2 linked regions of the Homo sapiens genome follow. The protein of the gene in region 1 purifies or fractionates together with the protein of each later gene. This does not show direct contact. Each region holds a gene or a part of one and is shown in the gene's direction. Other genes may lie near its edges.

Region 1 (5,344 bases):
AAGGATAAGTAGACAGTGGAGACCCAGGAGAGGTGGGTGGGAGAGAGGCCTAAGAAGAGTGTTCTGGGCAGAGGAGGAGCCATGAGAGGGCACCAGGGTGGGAGAAGCACAGCCCAGCAGGGCACCCGGAGGAAAGCTCGTGCCACCTGGAGCCCTGGGGGTAGGAGAAGGGCCAGCGAGGGTGGCGGGGCCAGTTGCAGGGCCGGGCAGACCAGTCTGATTCTCAGAGCAGTGGGAACCATTGGAGGTTTTTAAGTAGTCTCAATTTAAAAACAAGATCACTCTGCTGCCACGTGGAGAGCAGAATGGAGCAGGTAGGAGAGGACAGAGGGAGGCTTTCTGGCAGGGATTTGGGTGAGGGTGAGGACGGCCTCAGCAGCGGAGACGGGGAGAGTTGAACGGATCTGAGAGCTGCTTTCAAAGCAGGATGCCAGCAAGATCATCATGGACTGGAAATGGATGGCGGGGGATGCCAGCGTCAAGGCCACCCCCAGGTTGTGCAGCTGGGGACAGTGCTTGTGAGGGGTAGGACACTAGGCCTAGGGCAGCTCTCCTGTCATCCAAGACCCACTAAATTCTGGATCACATTTAAATGGTTCTTTCTCTTTGACAGCAAGCCACTAACATATGGGCTCTGCTTCTTCCATCAGCCAACAGAATCCTGGATTTGAGTCTGTCCTTTGAAAGCATCTCTGCTAGAGTTCCCACTTCCAAACCCCTTTCAGCTCTTCGGGATTCAGCCTCCAGGTGAGGTGCTGGAATTGATGCCAGAGTGAACGACTCCGGATTGCTGAGTGGAAGGAAAACGTAGGCACCGCTACTGACAGCTCTCAGGCGCTCCTGGGATTTTCCTTCCTTTGACGCTGAGGCTGTTCCGCTTTCAAGCGTTCTGCTTTGTGAGGGAAGGGCAAGGTCAGAAGGTGCTCACCCTTTCCACAGCAAGCACGCGGCACACGTGTGCCACACGCTGAACCTGCCTTGGTTGTAGCTGGCTCCTTTGTTAAGGTCAGCGCCCCCCAAGACCACGTGCTGTGCAGACAGTGTTGGGATCTCGGGAACTGTGGGGTTCCACTTAGAAACTAGTGTCTGGCCCAGCAGCCTACACAGGAGAGTTTGCGGTTACAGCACAGAGACGGTTTCGGGGACAGAAACATCCTTTCTCACTCCTGCCGGAATGCTGCTCACGGCTCCACTGAGGAAAGCCCTGCTTGATGGAAACTCAACTCTGCCATCATCTGCAGCCCAGTGCGACGGCAGTCAAAGGCCAGGGAGAGCTATGCTTTGTTTTATAGAAACATGCCTAGAAATGGTCGCCTTAAGTTATTTAACCCACTCCCTATTGTCGGGTTTTGAGTTTGTTTCTAGTCTTTTCCAACTGCAAACTGCACTGTAGTGACCATTCTCACAGCTACCTCTTTTCACACAAAAGTAATAATTTCCCTTTGGTAGATTTCTAAAAATAAATTGCTAGTTCAGAGAGATGACCAATTCCAAGGCTTCTGATCAGCTCTGCCCAATCACTGCCCGTGGTGAGGTGCCCCCCGAGACTGTACTTGCCGTGTCCTGGGGCCACTGCCCTCTCCTGCCAGTTTTTGTCCCCAACTGAAAGGGCCTCTTGTTTCTCTTTTTCTTGGTCCTTTTTAGGATGTATCATTGTTCATTCCCCTTCGTGAGCTCCGTCGTGTTTTATTTCCTTCTCTGCGTTCTCAGGTTGCCCTCGGAGTGGAGTCTGTGGCTTTCCACCGGAGCAGCGCCCAGGAAGTGTTTTCGTGTGATGAAAGTGTATGTCTGAAGTTCGTTATGAACTCGTCCTAGCTCCAGAGCTAGTGTGCATGCATGTCACTGGTCGTACAGATAATTGATGAGCAATTGGTGTCGTCTGAAGCAGTGACAGCCTGGGTGTGTCAGTGTCTCCAAAACGGTTCCACTGTGGCATCCTACAAATGGGCTGCGTCCTGGGAGCCATTGAGAAGTTGTACCTCCTTTACGGAGGGTTCTCTGGAATAGCAAATTAGGGAAAATGCATTCTGAGGTTCTGTATTTACAATAATAATTTATAAGCAAATAACTCACATTTCATCCTCAGTATTTTTCAGTGCTGTACAAGCGTCTTGAATTACTCTGGTAGCTTTTCCAGAAAGACCCATGACTTCACCACATTTCTCGAGTTACGATGAAGGTAGAGTCTGGGGCCCTGAGTGAGCATCAGATGCTGGAAGCTGGGGCTGGGAGGGGCCAAGCATTGGGGACAGACTCCAGACACCTGCACCACCCCCTGGCCCCATGAGATACGTTCTCAGACCTTCCCAAGAAGGATCTGTGGCTCCTCTCAGTGCTGTGAAGTGCAGGGGGCTTCCCTCTGGAATTCAGCCCATCTCTCCCTCCTACTTTGGCTGGCTCCAGATGCCATTTAGAGGAAATGTTTGGCCCATTTCCCAGGTGCCAGCTTTTCCCATGAGGAAGCTGTCAGTGCTTCCTGGTCAGGGAAATCTTTTGGGCGTGATTTGGTCAGTCACAGTCTGTTGGGGTGAGGTGGTGCGTGGAGAGGACAGGATTTGGAACCAAGGGTCCCTGGATTAGAATCCCTGCTCCATACCTCACTGGCTGTGTGACCCCAGGCTCGCGAATCTGCCTCTCTTGATCTGTTTCCTCATGAGTAAAGGGAAATGACTTTGTACTCTGGAGTGGGCCTCACTCATTCATGTGCCAGGCATCGTGCTAGGTGCTAGGGCACACCCCAAGGCGTTCGGGAAGCAGAGGCTGCCGTCCCTGGCCTGGGGCCTCCCTGCAGTGATGGGAATGTAGCCCTGGTGCCCCCACACCCTGCCCTTCAGGAGCCGTGGTTTCCTTCTGCTCTCTCCTGGGAGGCGCACACCCCTCTGCACCCAGAGCCAAGGAGGGCAGGCAGCCCTGGGACCCTCTTCAGGCACCGCAGCCAGGGTCTGTGTTACCCACAGGTCCTCTGGATGTCAGCATGGCAGCCACAAACCTGGAGAACCAGCTGCACAGCGCACAGAAGAACCTCCTGTTCCTTCAGCGGGAGCATGCCAGCACGCTCAAGGGGCTGCACTCCGAGATCAGGCGGCTGCAGCAGCACTGCACAGGTACATCGGGGAGCAGGCCCGGGCAGGCGGGGGGCGGCTATGGGGCACGGCAGAGCCCAGCGTCAGAATGTGCTAGGCCTGCCCTGCCCCCAGCTCCCATCATCGTTGCAGGAGTCCATCTGAATGCCTTATATCATCCTCATTGCATAATCAAGATGCACTAAGCATAAAGCTGCAAAGCCTTTTCTTGGCATACTGAGGACTTAAGAGATTAAAATACAATGGTTAGAATCTCCAATGTGTTTTGGAACTGATAACCAAGATATAGCCTGTGTGATACATAGAGCCAGCTGCTGGATTGTTTGGTTTGGATGGTTGGGATATGCTGTGGGGGAATGGGGAAGGGAGTTTGGGGGAACAGAGGGTGCCCTCTGACCCCAGGGAGCACAGTGGCCGCAGATGTTTTCTGCTGCTCTCATGCTCACCTCTCCTGCTGCCAAACCCTGCTCTGTCTGGGTAGGACTCGCTGGCTAATCGTGGGAATCGGTTTTGCATTTTCAAAGCTGATGAAGATTTTGAAATGTACAGTAAAAGAATTAATGTGTAACATTTCCCTTTTAGATTTAACATATGAGCTGACAGTCAAAAGTTCGGAACAGACAGGTAAGAACTCCTCCCCAGAAGTAAATGACAGTAGGTTTCCCTTTGTGGTACGTGTTGGTGCCGTTTTCACTAGTCACACACTTAGGAGAAAATGCTCTTGCTGGGAAGAGTTATGCGTGTGGCCTGAGCTCTCTAAGAGAAGATGAGAAGGATGTTTGGATCCCTCCGTGTTGCAAGTGGTTATTAGTGGGCAGGGGGATGAGTGATTTTGTTTTCTTTTGAATGACACATATATTTGGAATGCCTATTATATGTTTTTCTGATTTTCCTACAATGAACATGTGTTCCTTGTGTAATCAGGACATAAAAATAGACGTGAGTTAAACCCAAAAGGAGGAGTAACAGCAGCAGCAGCATTGGGCAGAACCGCCCCCGCTCCTCCGTGTCGCTGCCGCCTAGCATGGGCCTGGCACAGAGCAGCAGCTTGCTAAATGCTGGCGGGCGAGTGGTCACATTACTAGACAGCTCCCTGAGGATCTGGGGCTTTCTCTGGACTACAGCCCCAGAACCCTCCCCAAACCAGAATCCTCCAGGACCTCAGGAAACCCCAAAGGGCAGCTGCCTGCTGGCCGCCAGAGAAGAGACAGAAACCCAGGCCTTCCCAGGGCCCTCTGTGCCTGCTGCAAAGAGCCTGCTCCCTAAAACAGGGTGGGTGTTTGGAAAGTGCTGAATCCATGTTTGTGCAGAGACACCTGTTGGAAACGGGTTTATCACGTCGGGAAGGCAATGGATGGCTCAGCAAGGCTAGTTTACTTTCTGCAGAAAGGGTGCAACTCGCCAGCAGTCTTACCACGAGAGCACACTCAAACAAAGGAGACGAGGACATTTATAATCTTCATAACCTGATGCAATTGCCCTATGACTGTGTCCAGTTTCCATTGACTGGAATGGGACCTCACATTCTAAGCTTGACCCGATTGGCTAACAGCTTGAAACTTTCCTAAATAGGCAAAAGGGAAAGAGGACAAAGAAAAGAGGAAGCTAGTCATGAGAGGGTCAGGAGAGTTTCCAAATAAGGAAGAGCATGCACTATGGTCCAGGGCTCGCTCAGCCCTGCGCAGGCGTGCCGGGGCAAGGCGGAGCAGCTACACTGGAACATATATAGAGATATACATAGAGCAAGGAAATGACAAGCTCTTTATGGTTTCAAGAAACTTTGAAGAACTTCTCCATTCCCCACAATGCCTTTTTCTAAACAGGCCTCACAATGGCAGTTACTATTCATGAGAGTGTCCAGTTCCTTGTAAAAGACACAGACCATTTCCACCAAGCCTTAGTGGATTACCGAGCACTGATTTTTTTCCATTTGCATTGCTCATATTACAGCCTCCTGAGTGCGCCACCCAGGAGCCCAGACATCTTTTTGTCTGCGTGTGGTAGGGAAGGCGCCGTGGGCTTCTTGGGGTGGTGGAATGGGAGCCTGTCCTCAGAAGTCTCCCTGTGGAGGGATACCAGGGACCTCCCCCGAAGCCCTGGGACTGGGAGCTGGGCCTGTGGGAATGCAGAGGAACAGGATTTCAGCCTGACACTAGGGACCTCCAGCGTCCACACCTGCCAGCACTGAAGCCTTGGGAAAGGAGCTACCCGTGTCATGGAAGCCAGGGCGTCCTCGCTCCCTGTCCTCTCCTGGCCCAGGC
Region 2 (3,171 bases), on another chromosome or scaffold:
TAACCCTTTAAACCAACAAGGAGAAAATCTACTGGTAGACAGCGCTGCATCTTTAGTTCAGAAGAGAAAAGATTGCAGTACGTTAGAGCAAGAAGAATTTTCTGGAAGAAGTCAAATATAAGGTGGATTTTGAAGGGTATTTGAGGTGAAATACACCAATTATCAGGGAATAACATCAAAGGTCCTCAATGAGACTACCAGCATTTAGGGACTGATCTAACAGACTTAGCATGGGTTTAGTATTTACATTGATACAGCAATTGAATGATCTCCCTTTTTGATGTTTGAAGGTTGATAGGTCAGGAAATGTTCATCACCAGTTTCAAAAGCTTCTGACTGAATTCAACAAATCCACTGATGCATATGAGCTGAAGATCGCCAACAAGCTCTTCGGAGAAAAGACGTATCAATTTTTACAGGTAATTTCACCTGGCCTACCCACATTTCATTTGCATCCTGATGTCTGTGTCTCTGAGTGGCCAAATGGAAGAAAGCAAGGCAGATGAGCCTGGCCGACTCAGGTGGAGAGCATTTACTCAGAGTGCATTAGCTCCATTTCCACAACTCTCCCCCACTGGAGTGTCCCAGACCCCAACGATACATCACTGAAGTGTGGATTTAGGGATAATCTTGTGATAAAAGAGGAGGTTGTGTAATAGAGTGAGTAAGAGTAATAAGTAATAAGATACCATCGATAAACTGGCACTGACTCAGTCACATACGATACATCTTGGTGGGAAATGTATGACTAATGGGATATTATTGGAATGGGCAGGCTTGGGTGAGTTCCTGAGAATAGTTGAGGAAGTACCAGGAAATATTGAATGCACAGGATGAAAGACAAAAACAAAGATCAGAAACATCATGGTTAAAATTACTGGAGAGAAGTCTGAGAAGCAATGAATCTCCTTCAGGGAAGCCTGCTCTGCAGTTTGCAAACCACAGCCTCTTCTGCTTCTGCCTTTTGCCAAGATGATATTGACCTTCAGTGACCTCTTTCTTGTGCCAGCCCACATTCCCCTTTTGCATTGCCTACATGACACCTGTATAAAAATATCCATGGACAGGAGATACTGCATCTATTCAGGGTCTGGATTCAGCTTACTGTTGTTACAAATAAGTAAGTTTGGTAATATATAGTTACATAAATTACTCCTAATTCCTACTTCTTCCTTCATATCTCAAAGGAATATTTAGATGCCATCAAGAAATTTTACCAGACCAGTGTGGAATCTACTGATTTTGCAAATGCTCCAGAAGAAAGTCGAAAGAAGATTAACTCCTGGGTGGAAAGTCAAACGAATGGTAGGAGAGCCACCCATTATAGAAACACCTTTGAGAAACCTATGCCAGTGAGCCTTGTGCTTGACACTGCATGGGGGAACAGGTGTGGGGATTGAGATGGGTTTGCAGGGAGGGCTGAAGAGGGCACTCCAGATGAAGGATTTGTCCAAATGAATATGAAGAGAGCCTAGGGGAGCCAAGGAGGAAATCACAGGAAGCCAATTAGATGGAAACACATCTGGAGAATTATTTGCTTATGGCCCTGCATGACAATAGCTTTGTGGATCCCCTGTCTCCGCTCAGGCCTATTTTGAGATCATATCCTTTACTTTAAATCAGACTCAAATTTTTATGATGAATATTTAATAGAAAACATTAGAAAGCGTCTCTCGTCTCCTTTACTAATTGGGAAACAAGCAGCTCTCTGGTAAATCACCCTTTTGTCTCTGAGCTGGAGCTGCCTGGATCACATCTGTAGCCAATGTGTTCTGCAGGGATTATCACAGCTCTCTTCCCCATCAAGGGCAAAGAGCTTGACAAAGTCTCCATTCTACAGACATCTTTCTTACCTCCCACCTCTCATTACAGGCCAAACTTACAGCAACTCAACATGAGAGTGAATAGGAAGATACCCCCGGAAGTAGTGTCTGACAGCACAGGACATGCGTTTCATATTACAGAGCTCAAGTCACTCATCCTAAAATGCAATCAGGGCCTCCTTCCTCTGAATGGGGACCCCGTAGTTAAAAAAAAATAAAAGTAGGAAGAGGAGGGAGGGAGAAAGGAAAGACACATGTTGGAAGAGTAGACAAAATCAGTTTATCAGTATTCCAAATCAGATGATTGGAGACATTCATACACAGAGAACGTGAACTCCTTCTCTATCACAAGAAGTGATGTCTCCATCAAGGGTAACTTTATACGACTGGAGCCTTGAAGAAAGCTGCATCTGGTGAACCACTGGTCAGTGAGTCTAACAATTCAAAGATCAAAGTCAGTGAGTCTCAAGCAGGGATTTGGGTCAATAATTAACGATCAGTCACGAACATTTGCAAAGCATCTTCCAGACAAGCCATTTGTAGCTTGTGTAAAAGACTCTTTTATTCTTTCCCTTGCAGAAAAAATTAAAAACCTATTTCCTGATGGGACTATTGGCAATGATACGACACTGGTTCTTGTGAACGCAATCTATTTCAAAGGGCAGTGGGAGAATAAATTTAAAAAAGAAAACACTAAAGAGGAAAAATTTTGGCCAAACAAGGTATTGTCTATATTTTATTTATATAGTGTAATATGTTAATACATGGAATGTTAAACATTTCTGATGGAATGTAACATGATAAGTAAAAAATAAAAATTGTTCATGTCTGTTATTTTGTTGTTTTACTCTTATAACTTTATTTAGTTAGGAATACCTGAAAAACTATTGTTTCTAACTCATGGAATTCCTGGGTTATTTCTTAGAAGAAGAAGGATGTGTTGCTATCTCAATAATATTATCTTTTTTGTCTTGTGTTTCACGTGTTATTTGTTGGACACATTGATTTATTGCAGAATACATACAAATCTGTACAGATGATGAGGCAATACAATTCCTTTAATTTTGCCTTGCTGGAGGATGTACAGGCCAAGGTCCTGGAAATACCATACAAAGGCAAAGATCTAAGCATGATTGTGCTGCTGCCAAATGAAATCGATGGTCTGCAGAAGGTAAGAACTTGCATCTACAACTCTTCCTTCTACTGCCGGACATTTTTCCAAAGATACCAAGTTTAAACAAGGTAAAAGCTTATGACCGAGTTGCCTCAAAATGATGAAAAATTCTAAATGAGGAATGATGACTCACCTTCATATTACAAATATTTGAGCATAGGGCCTGACACAAAC

Evidence for each region. Proteins that work in one complex are often made in the same cells at the same time.
Region 2: the proteins of CCDC92 (region 1) and SERPINB4 purify together in Homo sapiens (affinity purification with mass spectrometry; 3 studies listed by BioGRID and IntAct, with this or other methods). This does not show direct contact.

What each region holds. Positions count from the first base shown.
Region 1 is NC_000012.12:123,941,107-123,946,450, reverse strand, and holds part of CCDC92 (coiled-coil domain-containing protein 92), read left to right. Parts: exon of another isoform or gene 1-747; intron 748-1,710; exon of another isoform or gene 1,711-1,782; intron 1,783-2,086; 5' UTR 2,087-2,145; coding exon 2,146-2,179; intron 2,180-2,957; coding exon 2,958-3,104; intron 3,105-3,665; coding exon 3,666-3,707; intron 3,708-5,344.
Region 2 is NC_000018.10:63,639,008-63,642,178, reverse strand, and holds part of SERPINB4 (serpin B4), read left to right. Parts: intron 1-290; coding exon 291-419; intron 420-1,187; coding exon 1,188-1,305; intron 1,306-2,402; coding exon 2,403-2,545; intron 2,546-2,838; coding exon 2,839-2,994; intron 2,995-3,171. UniProt on the Homo sapiens protein: May act as a protease inhibitor to modulate the host immune response against tumor cells.